Regions from separate parts of the Homo sapiens genome. Here regions 1, 2, 3 and 5 are each reported to be linked to region 4. The links are microRNA targets in miRTarBase. Many come from high-throughput screens and were not tested one by one. Region 4 holds a microRNA gene; each other region holds the end of a gene's coding sequence.
The links. Region 4 holds the annotated microRNA hsa-miR-199b-5p (CCCAGUGUUUAGACUAUCUGUUC, at 1,414-1,436, opposite strand). A microRNA usually pairs through its seed, bases 2 to 8, with sites in the 3' UTR of a target mRNA and lowers its output. Matches are read on the target gene's strand: a 7mer-m8 pairs with bases 2 to 8, a 7mer-A1 pairs with bases 2 to 7 and ends in A, and an 8mer does both.

Region 1 (4,108 bases), not on the chromosome of region 4:
CAACCGACGTACAAACCTTACTAAGCATCAAAAACTTCATGCTGAAGCAAAGGCCTGCACAAGCAATAAATGTGGAAAGGCCTTCAGTAAAAGTGAAGACAGTAATAATCCAACACTCCATTTTGGAAACAATTTCTATCAATGTGTTAACTGTGGAAAATCCTTCAACCGGAGCTCCTCTCTTATTCGACACCAAATGATTCACACGGGAGAGAAACCATTCAAATGTAAGGAATGTAGTAAAGCCTTCAACAGGAGTTCAAACCTTGTTAAACATCAAAAACTGCATACTCGAGATAAGTCCTGAAAAAAGAAAAAATGAAAGATTACCTTCAGTCAGAATGCAGAACTCATTTAACATCATGAATTTATGCTGGATAAAATCTCATGAATATAATGTAAGAAAACATTTGTCAGATTTTTCTTTAAATGATATCACAGAATTAATGTTGGATAGAAATATCATTGGATAGAAATCTGTTTGAAGGAATTTTCCTGGTTTTCAGATGAAGCCATAAGGCTTTGGAGTTAAACCACAGTATCACCATACAAGTATTTGTTTATCATTATTTTGATATCCATTACCCTCACCTCTCCCTAGTTCATAAATAGGTCTATAGCATACTAATATCCACCTGATTTATTGACGAAGTAGACATTAGGCAAAGCCAAACAATACTCTTGGAGTTGATATTTAATAAAACTCAGCCCTTTTAAGAAGGTCACAAGAAATCATTAGCTCATGCGAATATAAGAGAATACTTCTAAGGACAGAAATCTCTGAATCAATGGCTAAGACAACAGTAACAGCCATTTACTCCACTCCTGACAATACCCTTTGTTGTCTTGCTGTTGAATGGAGACTAGAGTTGGGAAAGGGTTATCAACTGCAATGGGAGAAGTATGTATTGCTGTTAATCTATATGTATTCTTAAAATCTGCATTTGTTTATAGCAGGTCCTTGAAAAATGTTTTTGTTTTGTTATAATGTTATAATTGTTATGATGTTGATGAGAAAAATATCGATTCCCAGCCAGGGACACTGTGTGGAGTTCGCACACTCTCCCTATGTCTCCGGGTGCTCCAGTTTCAAACCCCAAAGATGTATACATTAGGTTAATTGACATATCTAAATTATCTCAGTCTGAGTTTGTGAGGAAGTGTGCCCTGCAGTGGAATGGCTCCTAATCAGGGTTTGTTCCCACCATTGCCCTGAGCTGCTAGGATGCGCTCTGTCCACCCATGGCCCTGTACTGGAATAACAGGGTAAATAATTATCTTATCTGTTTTTATTAATCCGTCTTAAATGTGTATATAGCTCAGATTTATTTTAATGTCTGATATTGGAAGCGTTTGGGGTCTTTAGAAGTTTGATGATGTTGTGACCAGACATTTGCCTTAGGAACTTAACTCTTGTTTGTATCCATTAGTCTATGGTAAAATTGGTTTTGTTATACATCATTTCACTTAAAGTTGCAGTTCCTAAGAACCTATTGATGATGTTCAGTGCAGACTTACTGTACCTTTGGGAATTTAGGCTGGAGAGACGTCCATAGCCTTAGGTATATCATTTATACCAGACATTATGAAGTTATTAAAGTCTCCTATACTCTGTACACCAGAACTGTGTCTTCTGTAAACTACCTCAGGATCCCATCTGGTTCTTGAGCCAAGAAGTATGACTTAATCTGCCCCAAAAAATTCACACTGGAGACATTCCCAATTAATGATGATGGTAGCTTTTTGTGAAGGTTCATACCTTATTCAAAGGCAGAAAAGGTATACTGGAGTGAACTCCTATGATTAAATAATGTCAAAATCTATGTTTGTTCATCCTTTATATTGCAACACAAGTTTTATTAGGACAAAGCCCTACATAAGTAATTGATATAGAAATTCGTATAAACAAGAGATAACTTGTAGAGAAGCCTAACAAGAGAAAAGCACTCTGAATGTAAAAAATTCTTGAGGTATGTTCATTCATCATAGTACTTACATTAAATACAATGGATTCTGACTTTTTAAATTTAGGTATTCCAAGTCCAATATTTCAATTTTTGAAAATAAGCTGTGATTTTCTTTTGGATGGTTGAAAGATAGAAGTACTATTTTCACTCTTTATCTTTTCTTTGAACAACTAGCTATTTGAGCCTAAGTAAAATACTTATTTTTTTCTCCTAAATCTCCAAGCTTTCTTAAAAAAGTGTTTACTATGTTCACTAAGTTTAACATAACATAGTTTCAAATAATAATTTTTGGAGTGCATTTAAAGCTCTTGCAGAGCATTTATAGCCAATTAACATCTTCTCGCAGCCTTGTTTCACAAGCCTGTTTATTTAGTACATTGTATTAGCGTTCTCTAGAGGGACAGAACCAATAGGATAAATGTATATATAAAGGGGAGTTTATTAAGGAGTATTGATTTACACTGTCACAAAGTGAGGTCCCACAATAGGCTGCCTGCAAGCTGAGGAGCAAGGAAGCCAAGTCCCAATTTTACATAAGAGTCCAAGTCCCAAAACCTCAAAAGTAGGGAAGCTGACAGCGCAGCCTTCAGTCTGTGGTTGAAGGTCCAAGAGTCCCAAAGCTGAACTCGGAGTCTGATGTTCAAGGGTAGGAAGCATCCGGAACTGGACGAAGTAGTAGGCTGGAAGACTAAGCCAGTCTAGTCGTTCCAATTTCTCCTGCCTTTTATTTTGGCCACACTGGCAGCTGATTAGATTGTGTCCACCCAGATTGAGGGTCGGTCTGCCTTTCCCAGTCCACTGACTCAAATGTTAATCTCCTTTGGCAACACCCTCACAGTCACACTCGGGAACAATACTTTGCATCCTTCAATCCAATCAAGTTGGCACTCAATATTAATCATCACATATTTGAGTTTTACTATATACCATCAAAGGTCGATATCTAAGCTGAAACATGAAGAGTGTAGATTAACCAGATTGTGTCTGGCAAGTGTGGAAATGTTAGGAGAGATGATAAAGGCAAAACGAGGGGCACAAAGCTATAAAGGGATGAGGGCATGGCAAGTTCAGGAAACATAAGTTCATCTACTAGAATACAGCATTGGGAAAGAATGGAGCTTTCATTTCATAGAGGTAAAGCTACAGAGAGACTCAAGGGGCACATCATGAGAGGTCTTGTAAGCCACTTTAGAAGTTTGAGCTTCAGCCTAAAGGTAATAGTGAGATAAAATTGTTGTTAATTCCATGTTTAGTACTCTGAAAATGCTAATTGAAGTAACAAGATAAAACTCCAAAGGAGGAGAAAATCATTTGCTGCTGATATGGTTGACTCATGACAACCTAATAAAATTCGTTGAAAAACTGTTAGATTTAATAAATGAATTTAGATAAGGTAAATATAGCAACTTTGCTCAAAAATAATCTTGAATAAGAGGAAAGCTGTGTCTGGAATGAGAAGACTACTATAGAGATTTTGAGTCTCCACACATTAAACTACAAATGAAAAATTCTAATCAGATATTCAATGGGGAGGATTTATTTCACAAAGTGATTATAAAGTTTACTTTGTAGAAGTAAGAAAATAGCTGTGACCATTTTTTTAAAAGCAAGGTAATGAGAACATTACTAGTAACATAGTGTGATACTAGTCTATTCACATGTGTGAGACAATTGTTTATAACTAGACCTAGGTGTTTATAAGAATTTAGCATATCGTAAATTGTCACTTCAAATTAGAGTGGAAACTATTCAATATTTACATATATATCATATACAGATGTATACATATATGAATATATATGATATATGTTGATATATTTTTTGAAAATTTGACCATGCTGTGGAAAACTGGTCTAAAAAGTTAAATGCCAATCTCAACCAATAAACAAGGGAAATGTTCTATTTTCACTAATACTAAAAAACTTAAAGATCACATATTGGGCTGATAGACAACATATAAAAGGAATAATAACACTCAGTTTTAGTGGGACTCTTAAGAAATGTAACTCACATGCCACTATGGGAATGCAAATAATTACTAACTTTCTGGAGGGCCAACTTGACAATATATATTGAGAGCGTTTAAAAAGTCAAGTTACAGGAGGGAACAGCGCAAGTTAGGATTCAAAAAATCACAAGAC
Region 2 (4,116 bases), not on the chromosome of region 4:
CAGTTGTTGCATTCCTGGAAATTCAGTGTATATATTAAAACTGTAAAAACATTTTGTGTTCATTTGTAAAATAATTAGGTCTAGCTAATTATACCAGGTTTTTCCACCTACATTAACGTACAGAACATTGAAAGTTTTACTGATGTAGATTTGCAGTTCCCATTGCCCTTTCATATTAATCCCAAATATAAAGTTTATAATGATTCTTTTTTCTGTGAGCTGGGCTTGCATCCTTTAAAACAAATGATATTCAGAGTTGTAGCCTTTGACACTGTTTCTAAAGCCTATCACCAAGAACAGCAAGAGATTCCTAGAATGTATTCTCCAAACTGACACAAATGCTTTTTGAATTACTGGGAACATGACTCTTCTTTAGTAGCACCAAGGCATGAGAACGAATTATCATTTTTTTAAAACCATTTACTGTGCTCCCTTGGTGATTTCCCCTGGCCTGGCCCCAACTCAGGAGTATAAAATGAACTGAGCTGGAAGAAAAGGACTAACAGGGCCAGGCCATGGGGAGAGGGGAGGGGGCTGGGTTGCTAGGTTACTACTAGAGCCAATCCAAGTGGTCCCAGAGGGGTACCAGATACAGGACAGGTCCTTCTCTCTGCCCCCACTAAGTTGAGGGCCCTCTCAGAGGAAGGGGGTCAAAAGGTGGGGGAGGGAGTCCAATCACTCACACTAGGCACAAGTAAAGAAATGAGGCAGAAGCACAAAGAAACAGACAGCCCTGTATTTCTAAAACCATTCAAGGCTCCTTCATTAATTGGCTTCCCCCCAAAAGAAAGATTTCTTTATTAAGAAATACCAGAGAGTGAAAAACCCCCAACACATACACATTTGTAGGCTCACACAAAAGTGCAGAGATTTACATATTAAATTGCATTTAAATTAGAAAATAGATTTAAAAACAAAATACTTTTTTTCTCCAACAAAGTAAAGAGATTTGGTCAGTAGGAACGGGTGCTTTATGGGTAAAGGCAGGATGGTCAGGACAGGGAGAATGGAATTTAGCTGCTACGGAATCAGAATCCACCTCTAACCCAACCTCACTCCTGGGGTAAAAGCAAAGGAGGAGATGATGATCTCAGCTAGGGCCAGGAAGGCCTCAGAGCTGAATGGACATGAAGAAATGGCTCACCACAGCCAATTTCCACCTGCCCCCAGAGGTTTGGGATCAGTGCCAACCATCCTGGCCTGGGAAAGTAGGGTGCATAGGAAGCTTGAGGAAGAAGGAGGAAGGGGAGAGTTGGAGACAGTGTCAGCCATTGAAAAGACCAAACAATTTAAGGCCCTTTTCCCCTGGGAACATTGATTCTTTAATCTCCCCTCTGATCAGATAGGGACAGTCCCAGCTGGTGCATGGTATGAATGGGACAGATCTTCAGGCCAACATCTTAAACATGGAAGATTTATTAAGGAAAAGAAAGAGGGCAGGGAGTATGAAAAAGCAGAAAATCATTTCACACTAGAGATAAGAGATTTCCACTTTGACCCTTCCCATCAGAAAGAGAAAGCTTCTCTGTCTGACCTAAGGGTCCTCAGGAGAACACTTGAGGTAAGGTGAGGGAGGAGAGAGAGCCATCTGAGCCCAGGAGAGGAGATGGGCTGAGTACTTATTAAAATGGGGTTCATATGAGTGCCAAGTTACCTGGGGAAACCTAACAACTTACAAATTCTCCAGGTTTGGCTTTATAACTTCAAGAAAAAAAACTGAGAGAACCAGAAAAAGAAGCAGACAGGAGAGGGATCTGAGTCAGTCTCTCCCCATCTCTCTTCCAATCTCTCTCTCTCTCTCTCTCTCAAGAATGCTCAACTTAAATCCTGTTAAAAGGAAAAAGGAAGACATGGAAAAAGGTCTGGGAGCAGCCAAATTTCATTAATTCCAATTAACTGGGAAGTATGAGATGGGAATTGATAGGGAGTCTTGATTATACACCACCTAGAAAGAAATATATACCATCACTTGTAAAAGACCACTGATCAAATATTTCCAAGGGGGGGCCCTGATGAGCCTGCGTTAATAACTAAGACTTATTAGCAATTAACGGCATCCATCTGCTTCAAAACAATATCCTAATATAGAGCTTGTTCTCTTAAGTAAATATAATCCCTCTACCTTCCTGATCCTGTTCACACTATATCTCCTTGAAAGTCCTTTCTTCATAGTCCAGAATAAGAAAACCTTCAGCCCAGAATGTAGTATAGATCAATGGAGAGTTTGGAACTACCTCTCCAACCCAAGGGTGCCCTGGTTAATGGAAGTTTGGGGAGTAACAAGCAACCCCTTCCAACCCCCACCCCCACCCTACACACAAACATATTCTTGAAATGGAAGGGGGAAGGAGGAGGCAGGAAGTTTGCATTAGACACAGTTTAATCGCCTTCAAATAGATGAAAAGTTCTGGTTTACACTCCCCCACCGCATAAGTCATCCAGACAGGACCCTGGCTTAGAAAGAGGAAAACACAGGTGCTCTAGGAAATATAGCCACATATAATACATAAATCTTCTTCCCTGAAATAGAGCAGGTCCTGAGCAGAGCTGACTGGGGGCCACAGCCCACCCCCAGGGTGAAGTGGCTCTGGGACTCTGCCGGTGGAAGTGCTGGAAGAGCGGGGCTTGGAGGAAGCCCCCAGTGTGGTTACCATAGCCAGAGGTGGGCCGAGGCCTTAGGGTGAGTTACCCGAGAGGGCAGCAGTGCTGGGCTTTCCCTCACTCAGCCGAGGCTTAATGGAAGAACTGGTTAGCATTTTTTTTTTTTTGAGGGTACATCGGGGGAGAGGAGAGGAGAGGAGAGCCTCTCTGTGCCTTGGTTTCCCATTTGTGCATTCAGGGCCTCTGCAGGCCTCACACAGGGAGTCTGAGGGGATAGTGTTTAAGTGAGCACTCAGGCTTCCTCTGAGGAAAAGAAATGACCAAAGTGCAGACTTTTATTACTGCCATTCCTGCTCCTAATGGGAGCAGGAGTCAAAAGGAAAAACAAATTAAAAGGGGCTAATGAGAAAGGAGGAGAGATGAGACAGAGAGTGTGAAGGGCTATGCCGCTGGCATCTCATAAATTCTTATTGAGAATGGCACAGGTATTAAAAAAGTTTCTGGGTAGTCTACGAGAAATGTCAATTATTATCTCTACTACAACTACTTACATATATCTAATGGGAAAAGAGTGGGGCTTAGGTGTCAGAGTGGATGGGAGACAAAGGAGAAGCTACACTAATAAATACAACAAGTGGAAGGTACCTGTCCCATTCCTAAAAGGATTTGTGGGCAATGCTGGCACTTGGTGGCCAGGAGAATCTTCTGACCCCACTCTCCCTCCTCTTCAGTCCTGAAGACCCCAAGAACCCAGTTAGGATCCCCTGGCCAGAGGTCTCTGTGACTGCCTCTGGACTCAGCACGTGCAGCAGCTTGGGAGGATTTGAGCCAGTCTCAAAAACTTTTAGCCCCAGAATGAGACCAGTGACCCCAAGCAGGAGGGCTGGGATCTGGAGGGAAGAGAGGGGGTCCAAGGGGACCCTGTGGCTGAGGCCATGGAGAACCAGTGCCAGGGCCCAAGAGACCCATTTTTCCAGTTATCAGAGGTGACTGACATCTTCTGCCACTGCCTTGAGTTCAGAAATTTAAAAAAGCTTGCAGCAAGAAAATGCCAGTGTGCAACTGGGTGACTAAAGACCAAAGAAAAACAGTTAAAAGGGACAGCTTACTTGCTCTCTGTCTCAGGTTTAACTTCTCACCTGAAATCTCTCATAGCCCTAATTAAACACAAACAAAAGTCTCTTCCATAGATAGGCTACTTCTCAGCTTCAGCTGCCTCCTGTGGTGGCTCTGGGGGCTCTGGAGGTGGCATCTCTTCGGGAGTGCTGCTGTCCTCCGGCATCTCATTTGAGTTCAGGTGTTCTGTGGGGGCCTGAGAAGGAAAAGATATGAGATTCAACACAAAGCTGTTCCTCAAAATCCAAATGCAGATAAACCTTAGACACTGAACTCTTCCTCTCAGCCCCCTGATCACACTGATGCTACAGATATGCAGCCACCAACACCAAACTCAGAACCAACACCAAGCTATCGTCTTCTCGGCAGAACACAACTGAAGTTTATTTGAGTTTGATC
Region 3 (4,103 bases), not on the chromosome of region 4:
ACTAGGAGTAGACTTACTGAGACAGCTGACACTACACACGTTAAGGCTTTTGGCATCTGAGAAGCGTAGGCCATCTCAACAGAATACCTGACAATGTTCTGGAGACATCTGGTAGGCAGGAGGCCTGGGGCCGGGCTCTGGTTCCTGCCATGCTCTGCAGGGATGTTGCCCCTGAGGGGATCAGCGTCTTCACCATGGACATGGGAGTGTGGGATCGGCTCAGCTGCAAGGGTTCTGTCAGTATTAGCTGGGATTCCCACTCTGTCTCTCTCTCCCGTTTCCAGGTGACCTCACGGTGGACATTCCGATGCCCAGGATGCCCTCAGGCCCTGTCTCATGATGACTCCCACTTCCACGAGCGGCACAAGTGCATCAACTTCTTCGTGAAGGTGTACGGCTACATGCCCCTCCTGTACACGCAGTTCAGGGTGGATTCTGTGCTCTTCAAGACACGCCTGCCCCATGACAAGACCAAGTGCTTCAAGTTCATCTAGGGGCAGCGCACGGTCTGGGGAAGAGGATGAGCAGAGGGAGGAAGATGGCTCCCAAGGTTCCTAGGCATTGCAGGACCTTGGGCACATCTGCTGGTGGGTGGCCCAGAGCCTCTGCTGGAAGGGGCAGCAGGAGGAGTGGAAGGAAACCGCTGCCTTTATCTTGAAGTCAGCCACACTGGGCCTGGAGCCCTGGGCGGAGTCCCCGGGGTTCCCCACACAGGGCACTGACTGATAGCTTACACTGAGGACTGTGGCGACTCTGCAGAGTCACTCACACCGTTCGTACGCCCAGGACAGCTGGTTCGTGGTTTTTACATTCAATAACAACTATTATGATTATTTAAAAAGAGAAAGTTTCAGATTTGCCATTCAAGGCTTATTTATATATATGTGTGTGTATATAAATACATGCACACACTTGCATACATATATATTTTTGGCTGGGGGAGTGTGAGTTTTGCCTTTCTAAGGGAGGGACCGCGCAGGCTCCTTTGTTCTGTATTCTGGCGGAGATGGGTCCTGGCCTTGTGTCACTGGCTTATCCTTAAAGATCATCTCCCATCCTCCCCAGCGCCATCTGTGTGCAGCAACCAGAAAGGGATGAACTTGGCCCTCTTGCGGGCCTGGACAAGGTCTCTTCCTTACCCTTTCTGTTGCCAGTCAGCAACCTGTAACTCACATTCTCTTCCCAGTGAATCCCTGGGAGCGCCTGACCCTGGTGGGCTGTTCAGCTTCCTGCTGCTGGGGCCAGCGATTTTTGAGGATTTATCTTTAGGCCAGGCTTGCCTCCGTACTTATCCCTGCTCTCCCATTTCTCTCTTGTTTGAGAGAGAATGAGGAAGCAAAGAGTGAGAAAGAATAGGGGCTGAAGACGCCACTCCCAGATGGCTCTTTCTATCCTGCTCTTCTGTTGAAACACACGTGCTGTGGGCCTCAGGCGTTTCTGAAGTGCTCTTTCTTGGATTGGACAGGAGATCAGCAGCGTGCACATCTGCTGTGGTCTGAAGTGGTTTGCAGGTCAGCCTCCTCTCCCTAGTGTAGAGCAAGCCAGTGTCCTTCGAGGAACCCACCCGGCTGGCCGGGAAGTTTTACAGCAAGGCGCCTGCCTTGGGATAATTCCTTGGTGAAATTCACCTTCCCCCCGCCTCTGTCTGGAGCCCCATCCTGTGTTATCTGTGGTTTTTGGACCCCTAATGTCAGCTTGGCTGTAGGACTCCCCGAGGTTTGGTATGTGCTAGAACAATGGGAGGCTGTGATTTGCTGTGTAAGCTCACATCCAGCCTTGGAATCTAACGGGCATTCACAACCCGAGTTACCACTTTCCACTCCCTGCTTAGGATTCTGTTCCCTGGGCTGAAACTGAAATAAGCTAATTTTTTGGGTCACGGTGGCAGTAGGGGAACCTAGGAGGGTGTGAGTGGCATTTGTCAGGGATTTAGCCCATGACGTGTTTCTTGAACCCTACTTTCTGGAAGTGGAGTTGACTCTGGAAGTTTTCTAGCAACTGAACAAAAGCTCAGGTTTGTCCTGGTCATGCACATGCCTTAAGCCAGTTCCGTCTTCCCTAGACCTTGGCATCCTGTGCTTCTATTTCTTGGAATACGTTCTCCTCTGACCTGCCTGTACCACGTGGGTCCTCTTCAAGTACTGTTTTGAAGCTGGGCTCTTTTGTGTAGCTCCCACCCACCTGTAGGGCTAGCTCGGCTTAAGGGAACTCTCCCCATTGGCAAACCGGACCCGGCCGCCGCCAGGACTGTGTTTCCAAAGGTTCCCCGCCCCCAACCCCAGCATCAGCCTGTAGCTCCCCTGCTGAGGCAGTGTGGTTATGTTCCCAGCAGTGGGGGTCAGACGCCCTTCCTCAGAACTTTCTAGTTGCCCTCTACCTGACTCCTGACTTGTATTCCTTTTAGCAGTAGCCTTCTTCCCTCGGGGAGCCAAAGAGTGTGGTGTGTGGCGCTATATTGTGGCTGCTATTTCATCTGGTTTCTTTTAATGTGAGGAACTCACATACTGACTTCAGTGGGACTCGGTGAGCCGGGGCCGTCTGTGTGGTGGGACCCCCTTTAGCGGGACTCAGTGAGCTGGGGCCGTCTGTGTGGTGGAGCCAGGGCCTCTCCCTTTAGTGGAGCCAGGTTGTCGGGCCCCGAATGTCACTGGTGGATCTAAGAAGGGCTGAGTGGTCTGACACCAAAACATGCCGCAGGGAGGGCTGTGGTGCCGGTGCTTCCAACAAGGACAGCCCTCCTTGACCCTGAAAGGAACACTGGCTTGAAGGACTGCAGACAGGCTCTGAGGGGCACGCCCTCCTCAGCGAGAGGCAGCAAGGTGGCCACAGTGTCACTGGTCAGGTGCTTCTCACCACGGGAAAGCCGCCGACCTGTGACTCGCTTGAGATGGGAAAGCGGCGCCACAGACCCCGGGTCTCCTTGGCTGTCTGTGGGCCGCCCCTGGCCACCTTGTCCTGGCTCGCAGGGTGCAGGAGCGCCTCGTTCTCTGGGTGGCCGGCTTGCTGCTCCGGTTTGGGCTGTCTTACCATAACACCGTCCCAGGGCTCTGCAGGCCACTGTGAGCGCTGGCTCCCTGGGCAGTGCTCCTCCGTGTGGACTGTGCCTCAGGCCAGGGCTCACCAGCTGGGGTCCTGTCCGGAAGGATGGGATCTTTCTGGGAGCTGCGCCGGACAGAGTGGGGAGCTCCTAGTTTGTGGGGGGAAGCTTTGATATCCATGCCACGTCCATCCACCCCACCCCTTTTCGTCACGAGCACAATGGTCTTACATTGGATTTTTGTAAAAAAATAAAAATAAATGGAGACTTTAACTCAAGCAGCTTGGAGGTCTTTTGTGGTTTTCCTCAGCAAGTATGGAAGAGTGACCTGAGAGAAGGCACCTGCTTGATTGCTTGATTCCAGGTCGCCACCTGTGTATGCCAGCTGGGCCTGCTCGCAGAAGACGATGGGAGGCAGCCTGACCAGGCCCTGGTGTGGGCTGTGGACCAGAGATGGGTGAACAGACTCACACTCACATGGGCAGCCTTGCCTGTGCCCGGTTCCAGGGCAAGTCATTTTGACAAAACAGGAACTTAGGGGCTGTTGAGGTGCTTTAAGCAGGATGTGGAAGGGCATGTGGCCCATATATGCAAAGTTAATTTTTTCATGGGAATTTAAAATGCGTGTGTGTGTGTGTGTGTGTGTGTGTGTAGTGGTTGTGGGGAGCTGTGTGTGCCTGCGATCCCAGGACAGGTGAGGCCTCACTGTGAATGGCTCGATTCGGTCCATAGGTCATGCCCCTGACCTATAGGTCACTAAGGCACCTGTACCTGCACCGAGCTGACGCTCCCTGACTGCAGAGCCCCATCCTGTTGGTGCCCACAGGCCTAGATCTTGTGCTTGGCTGTGGGATCAGAGGCTTCCTCAGGAGAGGGCACTGAGCTGTGGGCTTCGGGGAGAAGGATGGAGATGGGAAAGGGGGTAAAGGCGAGGACTCCTCTCCTGGGCTCTGCAGGTGGCAGCTTTGGTCACACTGACAGTCCTAAGAATGGGTGAGACTTAACAGTCGGTGTCCCTCCTCAAGTGGGGTTCACGACTGATCAGGCAAGTTTGCAGCAGCTGATG
Region 4 (4,108 bases):
GAGGCTACAGCATCCTCAACGGGGGAGCGGGGCTCTGGGTGGGGCCTGTGATTTTGGCCTCCAAGCCCCCTCCCAGGTCCCTGTCTCCTCCAAGTTTGTCCTGGGCAGGGGCCCCAACTCTCCACCTTGGGAGGGGCCCTCTGTCGTCACTGGCGGGGGCGCCAAGCCATCTGGACCTCATTACCCCAACCCTGGCCTCCCCCACCATGGGGGCCCCTGGAAGGGATGGAGTGTGCAGTGGCATGGGGTGCGGGTGGGGGGTGGCTTCCTGCCGGTCTCTCTGCAGGCTCCCTAGATGCCCCCATGGGTTTGGGGTCTCCCATGTTGAGGTTCCTTACTCAGGGCCAGGGAGACCATGTGACCTGGGGCTGAGGGCCGGAGACCGGGTGACACTGTGGGGGAGGGGCACGTGCCACTGAGGGGGTCCCCTGATCTCATGCCTGAGCCTGCAGGCCTTTCTGGAGCTTTTGTGTACATCTGAGTTAAGTCGTGTGCGAAAACAGCTCTGAGAATCATATGTGGGGAGATGGGAGTCAGCTGTGGGCTGTGGGTGCTGGGAGGCGGGGTGTGTTTGTGTGTGTGTGTGTGTGTGTGTGTGTGGCTTGTGGGTCTGGTGTGTGGGTGTTTTTTAGGAGTGTGATTGGAGTATAAGCATCTAGGTGTGTTTGGAATATGTGGTCTGCATTTGCATCTGGGGGTGAAATCTGTGTGCCTGGGGAGTGACTCTGGGCACCTGCCTGTGCTTGGGGTGTAAAAGCAGGTGTGTGTGGGGAGGGGGCTCTAGGAGGGAGGGTGTGAGTATGGGGTGTTTGAGAATCTGTGTATGTCTTTGGGATGTGAGGATGGGGGGAGTGTTCCAGTTGTGAGGGTGTGTATGGGTGTGTGTGCATGCACTTGTGTGTGTCCGTGTGGGACATGGGTGTGAGATTGAAAGTGTGGGGGTGCTCATGTGTGTGAGTTCTGGGGCTGTGAGTGTCAAGGTGCGTGTGTGTTGAATGTGAGTGGATTCTTGCACTAGGACCACTGGGGATGTGGAGGTGGTCCAGGCTGGTGGGAGAGTGGTCTGTACTTCTCTACTCAACCACCAGCCCTCAGGTTTTGGGGTGAGGGAGGCTCTTTGGGCAGACCGGCGGCTGCCCACATCCCCAGTCCCCATTGACCCCCCCATCCTCTCAGTCTTCCTCGGCCACCCTTCCCCCATCACCGCTACCCCCAACCAGTCCCACACAGGGTGGCACCCCCATCCATCTGTGCCTCCTCCCAGCCCGCCCTGTGCCCCAACCCCCTGGCTCCAGGCTCCGGTTCTGGGATGGCAGGCAGGGGTCGGTCCAGCTCTCCAGTGGCGGCGGTGCCGAGGGTCTAACCCAGCCCAGCCTAACCAATGTGCAGACTACTGTACAATTTGGGAGTCCTGAACAGATAGTCTAAACACTGGGTAGACGGAGTGGAGGTGTCCTCTGGTCCATCCAGGCAGCAGTGTCTGTCCATCCGGTGGGCGCTTCAGCCCCATCCCCTGGAGATCCGAGAACCCCCCAACCCCAGCCTGTGTCCCCCTAGCCCCAGACCAGCCAGCCCGTGGTCCCCTCTCTGCTCCCAACTCCCCTTCTGCCTCCTTTGACGTGGCAGGGGTGAGCGGGAGCTGGGGCTGAGAAGGAGGGGCCTGAGGAGGGGGCCGGCCGGCAGGAAGGGAGGGGTGGGGGGAGGAGGCCGCTCCTACCTAGTGTCCAACCCCGAAGCACAGGGCGGGTGGTGGCGGGGCCTCTCTCGAACGGTTCCAGATGTTCCCTGGCCGTGTGTGCAACTTCCTCCTCTCCTCCCCCAGCCGCCCTCTGGGGCTCCCGGCCACCCGCCTGGCATAAAGAGGGCTTTATGTGGCTGCATGGGCCAGGGGGGCGTTGGGGGCAGAGAGGGGTGGGCGGGATGACGCCAGGACGGGGGAGCAAGGTCCCCCTAAACCCAGCCCCCCACCTGAGATCCTAGGCAAGGCTCATGCCCAACCTCTTTGAGTCCCCGAGGCCCACACAGACGACCCCCGTGAACAAGTAGGGCATGGGTGACAAAAACCCCTCCCCTCTCCCAGAGCCCCATCCTGGGGTACCTCCTCCCTAGATCCCTGAACCCCTCCCCTGGGACACAGCAGCCTACATACACATGTGCCCACACCGAGCACACACATGGGCCTAGCACCCCACACGCCTGTGCACAGATACACATAACTCCTCCCAGACAGCTCTAGATAAATCAAACACACAGCCCATTGTACCACGGTGTGCAGGTAAGATGTGTACCCCAGTATAAGTCCACAGGCATGGCTCTGCAAACATGTAGGCTCGCACAATTGCCACACACATCCACAAAGTGTGCACACATCCACACTGAGATGCAGACACGCTGACACCGACACATGGTTCATGCTGGGCACCTCCCCAGATACACATGTGCACACACACACAATAGCTGATAGGATATGTACTTGGGCTTGCATGTGTTGGCACAAACACACAACTACACACATGTTGCACACACAGGCACACCATCTCCAGGCTTGTGCTGGCTGCCTTATTGCTAACACATGGGGAGCTCGGGGGAGTGGGCTGAGCCGGCCCTTTGAAGCCGCCGGGTCTGGTGGCCCCCCTTCCTGGTCTCTGCAGTCAGGAAATGAAGTCAGAGGCGGCCAGGCCGGGGGTGAGAGAGGCCTGAGTGTGCGGTCCCTGCCTGAGGCTGGCCTGGCTTGTATCCAGGACTTGCCTGGGGAGGGATTTTGGGAGCCACTCTCAGCCTCCCCACCCCTCACCAGCCCCCTGGCCCCCGGCATATATGCAGAGCTGGTAGGACTGGCTCTGCGGGGGTCGGCGGTGCCCAGGAGGCCTACGGTCCGTGGCCAGGCTTTTATCTAGCTGCACCTTCGCAGTGGGAGGGGGCTGATGCTTAGAAGCCCTGGGCCAGTCAGGGGGACTCTTAGAGAGTGAGGTGTGGCAGAGAACAGTGCCAACCTCACCCCATTGCTCCTACCTGCACCCACAGGAGAAAGAGAAGAAATACATGCTGTCTGTGGACAACCTCAAGCTGCGGGACGTGGAGAAGGGCTTTATGTCGAGCAAGCATATCTTTGCCCTCTTTAACACGGAGCAGAGGTGCCTGCCTGCCCCTGGCTGTGGCTGCTGCAGCCCCAAAACCACCCTCACTGAGTAGAAGCTGGGTACAGGGATCCAGGGAGGAGAGGAACCTCCCCTAGGCCCCACAGCAAGCCATCCACTGACAGATGCTTATTGAGTTCCTGCTTTGAGCTAGACATCATGTCAAGATCTCCCATCCCCTCCCCTTCCCTTCCCTCCTCCTTCCCTCCCTCTTTTCCTTCCTCCCTTCCTTCCTTCCATCCTCCCTCCTTTCCTCCCTCCCTCCCTTCCTCCCTTCCTTCCATTCTCCCCTTCCCTCCCTCCCTCCGTCCCTTCCTCCCTTCCATAGTCACTGGTATAGTGCATGCTCTTCATGAGACACTCTGCCAGGCACTGGAGCCAAAGGGCCCTAGTCAGGCCTGGTCCTCTTCTCCTGCTCTCTTTCCTATAGGGTGGTGGCAGTACTAGTCCTCTTCCTTCCTGACCCAAGGCTGACTCTAGTGGGCCCTCTGCTACTCGGAGATGAGAGTTCAGTCCAGCGGCCATCAGAGGGGTCCTTAGAGAGCCACGGAGAAAGCTGGTGGGATCTGGGCCCCAAGCTAGAGACTTCACTGACTATGGTTGTCCTCTTGTCAAAGGTCCAGTCCCCTTCTAAGCATTTTACCACTCACTTCACTGAATCCTCAGTGACCCAAGGAGGCAGGAATTATTATTAACCCATCTTCCCAGTGAGGAAACTGAGGCTGAGAGGAAGGGACTTGCACAGGGTCACACAGCTGGGAAATGAGCTGGCCTCAGGCATGTTGACCCCAAAGTCTGGGCATGCCCTTAACCCCCAGGGAGGGTCAGACTTTGCCCATCTGCCCTCACTGCCTGCCCTATCTTGCAGGAATGTCTACAAGGATTATCGGCAGCTGGAGCTAGCCTGTGAGACACAGGAGGAGGTGGACAGCTGGAAGGCCTCCTTCCTGAGGGCTGGCGTGTACCCTGAG
Region 5 (4,116 bases), not on the chromosome of region 4:
CCAAGGGTTCAGGCTGGAGGTGTCGGTAATGCCCATCTTCCTCACATTCTACCTCCCTCATTTCTCACTTTTCCAGGCTTACAAAGGAAAATGCCAACATACTTCAGCCAACAAGTCAGCCTTGAGGAAACCAACTGCTCCCCATCAGTCAGGAGGAAAAACAGACAAAGCCAGCAAACCAAACCAAATCATTTTATTGTGCAATTTCCTTCTACCAGAAAATTACTAAAAATATAAATATTAACTCTCTAAAAAATACTCAGAATAGATCTGTAATCTTCCTCCTCCTCCTCCGAACTGGAGCCAATCTTCTTCTTTAAACGCTGATGGATTGCATACATGTATGTCTTCCATATCAGCCACATACACAACATTCAGATACACTTCCCTCTGTGCAGGGGGATACACCAGCCTCCTGCCAGGTTCTGGAAGCTCACCTTATAATCTACCAGGATACAGCTGTGTGCTGAGTAGGAGGTTATGGTGGGGTTGGGGAGTAACAAGGAGATAAAAGACCTTGTGGTCCCAACTTCCTTATGTGGACAGAGAAGATAGGTCCTTTACTCCTCCTCATTACCCTGCCCTCTCATGGACTGGGCTAACTGAAGGCCAAGCTCCCAGAGAAGCTGGACTCACTGTGCGGGATTACTGAGGGTGTGGCTGCCAGGCTACAGTCACAGGAAGGCCAGACTGTTGAGATGGACATGGAAACCAGGTGAGGCTTTGGATGGAAAGCTGGTCTGGGCCAAGGCCTCTGCAGGATGAGTAGTAGCTGTTCCTGCTGGGCTTTGGGCAGCCCCTAGACCCTAGCACCAGGTACTATGTGCAGCATCTAAGACCAGACACCAGTCTCAGAGAGCCTCCCGAGGTAGCAGCAACATCCCTGCAGCAGGGGGACGGGCAGGTTGTAGGCAGTTAGATTGGAGCAGGGTCCCATGGCACTGTATTCAGTATCAGACACAGGTCTGAAGAACTCTGGGGTCACCCTGGCAATGGTCCTGGACAACCTGGTGGGATCCTTTTGCTCATCCTGGGTCTAAGGTCCTGGACTCCAGCAGCAGCTGGGCTATAGAGTGGAGGCAGGGTACTTAAGAAAGGCTGCACCTGCAATACCTGTACCTATGGCTGCCATATCATCGGGCCAGAGCCGCCCTGGGCTCCAGGAGAGGAGAAGCCCCAGAGTGCAGGGGCTTGCTAGGTTTCCCATCAAAGCACAAACCATGCTCCTGGTATGGGAAGCTCAGATGAAGTGGCTTGCTCCCAGGATGTGTGTTTGGGGACTCTATCCCTATCCTCAGCTCTGGTGTTTTGTGTGATACCCCAAACCATTCTGGGAACACTCAAAGGACCCCGAATGCTAGTCCTGAGACCTCCTCTCTGACATCAGGGTCAGATATCACATCCTTAGAGTGAGAAAGAATGTACACGTAAGCCCTGCTCACTCTACCAGGGCCTGCAGGTGCCCTACTGCAGTGACTCCTACGAGGGAGGGGAGACAGTTTGTGGTGAGCACGTGGTGAAACCTGGCTTTCTGGGAGAAGGAAGACAATGGAAGGCAAGGTAGAAGGGAAAGTGGTGGGAGGGCCATGGCAAGGCCACACAGCTGCAGAAGCAAGCATGCAGGAAGGAACCCACATCCTAGCAATCCTGCTGAGGCTCCTAGTTGTGTAGGAGTTAGCATGGCCATTTTATATGGCAGTGGTGGTGGGAAGGGGAGCAGAGGCTTGGAGATGAGAAGAGCTGGGAAGCAAGCCCTGGGTATCCCAGAGCTTATGGGTGGGAAGCCAAACAATGAATAGAACAGGGGAGGCCACAGGAATCCCAGGAGGAGGATGCCGCACCGCCTGCCCTGGCCGGACGTGCCATTCCCAGCCTTCTCCCAGGGAACCGGCCACCTTGTTCAAGAAAAAGAACGTTCTCCTCTTGCTGCAAAGAGCCCCAGAATTAGGATCACCCCCTTACAGGATCTGCTGGTCACAGGAAGACAGCACAATAGGCCCCTGGTGGGAGACCTAAAAGTGGGTTGCAGGAACCAGTTAAGGCTGGATGAACCTGGTCAGTCCCTTACATGGATCCTGAAGCAGGAAAAAGCCCACCAGCATCAGCATAAAAGAAAGGCAGGCAAGGGCAGGGCGGGGCCGCTCCAGTGAGGTCCAGAGCTGCAGGAGGCCCAGGCAACTTCAGCACAAGCACAAAGCACTTCCACTTAATTAAAACTGGTTTCCCCCCACAGTTCTTCTCACATTCCAATCTTGTACATGCTTCATTCTGGCTCTCACAGCAGGCCCAGGCCCTGAAACGGCATTATTTTAGGCTGCAAGGTGGCCCCTGAAAAGCTGTTCTGATCCCCAGTGGTCGCTCTTCTCTGTCCCATCCTCACTCCCTTCTCCCTGCTTCTGCTCTGGGTTTTTAGCACCAGCTCTGAATGCCAAGACCACCCCCAAGTTCCTGGGCCCTCCCCACAAAACCAAATCAGAGTGTGCTAGGCCGCATCTGCTGGGGCCTGGCTCTCCCTGTCTTCACACACTCAGCAAGAGAAGCCTGATCTTTCCTTCCGTGCAGAATGCCCACATTTTGTGTTCGACATCTGACCAGATGGGAGAAACCTTGGGAACCCTGGGTGGCAGCGTTCAAACCCTGGGTGAACTCTCAAGGTCTCAGGCCTGGTAAGCATCTCCTCTGGCCTCCACCCCAGGGGCAGAGCAAACATGGCAACCAGGGGCCTGCACTGTCCTGGGACCAAGAGGAGCTATGGCTGGGCTGTGGTCAGGGTGTGTGGCTTTCTAGGCCATGGCCTGTCATCAAGCCAAACACATCATTCCTCATCCAGCCTTCCTCCCGCTGAGGCCAGGGGCATCGGACCCATCAAGGAGGAGAGAGAAGGGACAGGGGTGTGGGAGGGAGAACAGCAGGGGAGGAGGCGCATGTAGGGGACAGGCAAAAAGAATTCCTGTAAGATCCATTGTCCTGAGCTGGTGGCCCTGCAATTCACTGAGAAGACAGGACAAGCTCAAGAGTGGAAGAGCTCTAATGTCCAAGGGCTGCAGCCCACTCAGAGGAGGTTACAGAAAATTAGGCTCAAAACGGCATCAAGTCCTTCAGCCATTCTGCGGATAGACTCTTTAACTAGAACTACTCAAGGACTTCCAGTCCTGCAAAATCCCATGATGGACGACTGGCTCTCTGCTGGTGCCTCATACAAGGAAGACAAAGGGCACAGCGGAGTTGAGGCCAGGGCCAGTGTGCGCAGTGGAGGAGAAAGCAGCAGGAAGACAAGGGCAGAGCTCAGCAGGAAAGAGCAGAGGCTCTATTCAAAGGACAGCAGGTCTGGGTGAGGGCCCTCATTGTCGAGGCTGGAGGTCCGTGCCTGAGGAGGGGGGCTGCCATCCTCCCAGGACTCAGCCAGGCTGATGGGGCTCAAGCTGAGTTTGAAGCCATTCCTCTCGATAAGGCTGGGGGAGGAGGCCCTTCTGCACTCAGTCATCTTTAGCTTGGATTCGTCCTGGCTATCCTTGTGGATTAGGTCAGGTACTGACAGGGAAACCTCTCCATTGGGCAGAACTTTGCCTCTCTCTTCTCTTTCCATGGTGGCCTCTGGCTGTGAAGCGTCTGCTGGGACGTCAGGCTGGGCAGTGGGAGCGGAGTCCTGGGCCTGCCCAGGTGATGGCTCTGTCCCATACTCCAGACTGCTGAGGACAGGCTGTGATGAAATCAGCATGTCCTGGGTGGTCTTCAGGGCCCGAGGGGTTCGCTTTCTGGTTATGGGAGGTGGAGGATCCAGCCGAGGAAATGTTTCTTGCAGGACTGACCTGTAAGGTTAATGACAATAAACACACATGCCTTAAGGACAGCAAGACACCAATCCACCTGCCATCTTGCTTCTCCAACTCCAACTGCACTTTCAACCCACCCCACCCAATAACTGCTCTACTCCTTGGGCTCTGGTTCTTGGTTTGGCACATAGGCCTTAGCAATTTCAGCATAACAGTAGCTTTTGGCCTGGTCCATGCTTACTCAGTGTTCAGAGCAGCACAAAGTGCTGGCCTCTAGAAGACAGGATAGAGACCGCTGGTGAAGCTTGTCAAATCAGAACCCAGGCAGTAAGTCCTGTGTTTA

Region 1: the mRNA of ZNF215 is a reported target of hsa-miR-199b-5p. Seed matches in the 3' UTR shown: 8mer at 1,705-1,712.
Region 2: the mRNA of ZDHHC9 is a reported target of hsa-miR-199b-5p. Seed matches in the 3' UTR shown: 7mer-m8 at 3,653-3,659 and 7mer-m8 at 2,639-2,645.
Region 3: miRTarBase lists EXTL3 as a target of hsa-miR-199b-5p. Seed matches in the 3' UTR shown: 7mer-m8 at 667-673 and 7mer-m8 at 2,755-2,761.
Region 5: miRTarBase lists C1orf226 as a target of hsa-miR-199b-5p. Seed matches in the 3' UTR shown: 7mer-m8 at 3,238-3,244 and 7mer-A1 at 2,143-2,149.

The regions. Positions count from the first base shown.
Region 1 is chr11:6,956,225-6,960,332 of GRCh38, forward strand. ZNF215 (zinc finger protein 215) reads left to right here. Exons shown (of 7, transcript NM_013250.4): 7 at 1-1,823. The coding sequence ends at 307. LOC102724711 (a long non-coding RNA gene) reads right to left here. Exons shown (of 3, transcript XR_002957236.2): 2 at 17-303. Among named protein-coding and RNA genes, the nearest start is that of ZNF215, 32 kb to the left of the region's middle.
Region 2 is chrX:129,802,574-129,806,689 of GRCh38, forward strand. ZDHHC9 (zDHHC palmitoyltransferase 9) reads right to left here. Exons shown (of 11, transcript NM_016032.4): 11 at 715-3,913. The coding sequence ends at 3,797. Among named protein-coding and RNA genes, the nearest start is that of SASH3, 25 kb to the left of the region's middle.
Region 3 is chr8:28,750,373-28,754,475 of GRCh38, forward strand. It overlaps EXTL3 (exostosin like glycosyltransferase 3), which reads left to right. Exons shown (of 7, transcript NM_001440.4): 7 at 285-4,103. The coding sequence ends at 494. Among named protein-coding and RNA genes, the nearest start is that of EXTL3, 51 kb to the left of the region's middle. RefSeq lists enhancers at 1,401-2,345, 2,346-3,288.
Region 4 is chr9:128,243,370-128,247,477 of GRCh38, forward strand. It overlaps MIR199B (microRNA 199b), which reads right to left and starts at 1,461; the gene lies at 1,352-1,461. DNM1 (dynamin 1) reads left to right here. Exons shown (of 22, transcript NM_004408.4): 16 at 3,025-3,134; 17 at 4,006-4,108. It overlaps MIR3154 (microRNA 3154), which reads right to left and starts at 1,661; the gene lies at 1,578-1,661.
Region 5 is chr1:162,382,875-162,386,990 of GRCh38, reverse strand. C1orf226 (chromosome 1 open reading frame 226) reads right to left here. Exons shown (of 2, transcript NM_001085375.2): 2 at 179-3,809. The coding sequence ends at 3,308. Among named protein-coding and RNA genes, the nearest start is that of C1orf226, 3.2 kb to the right of the region's middle.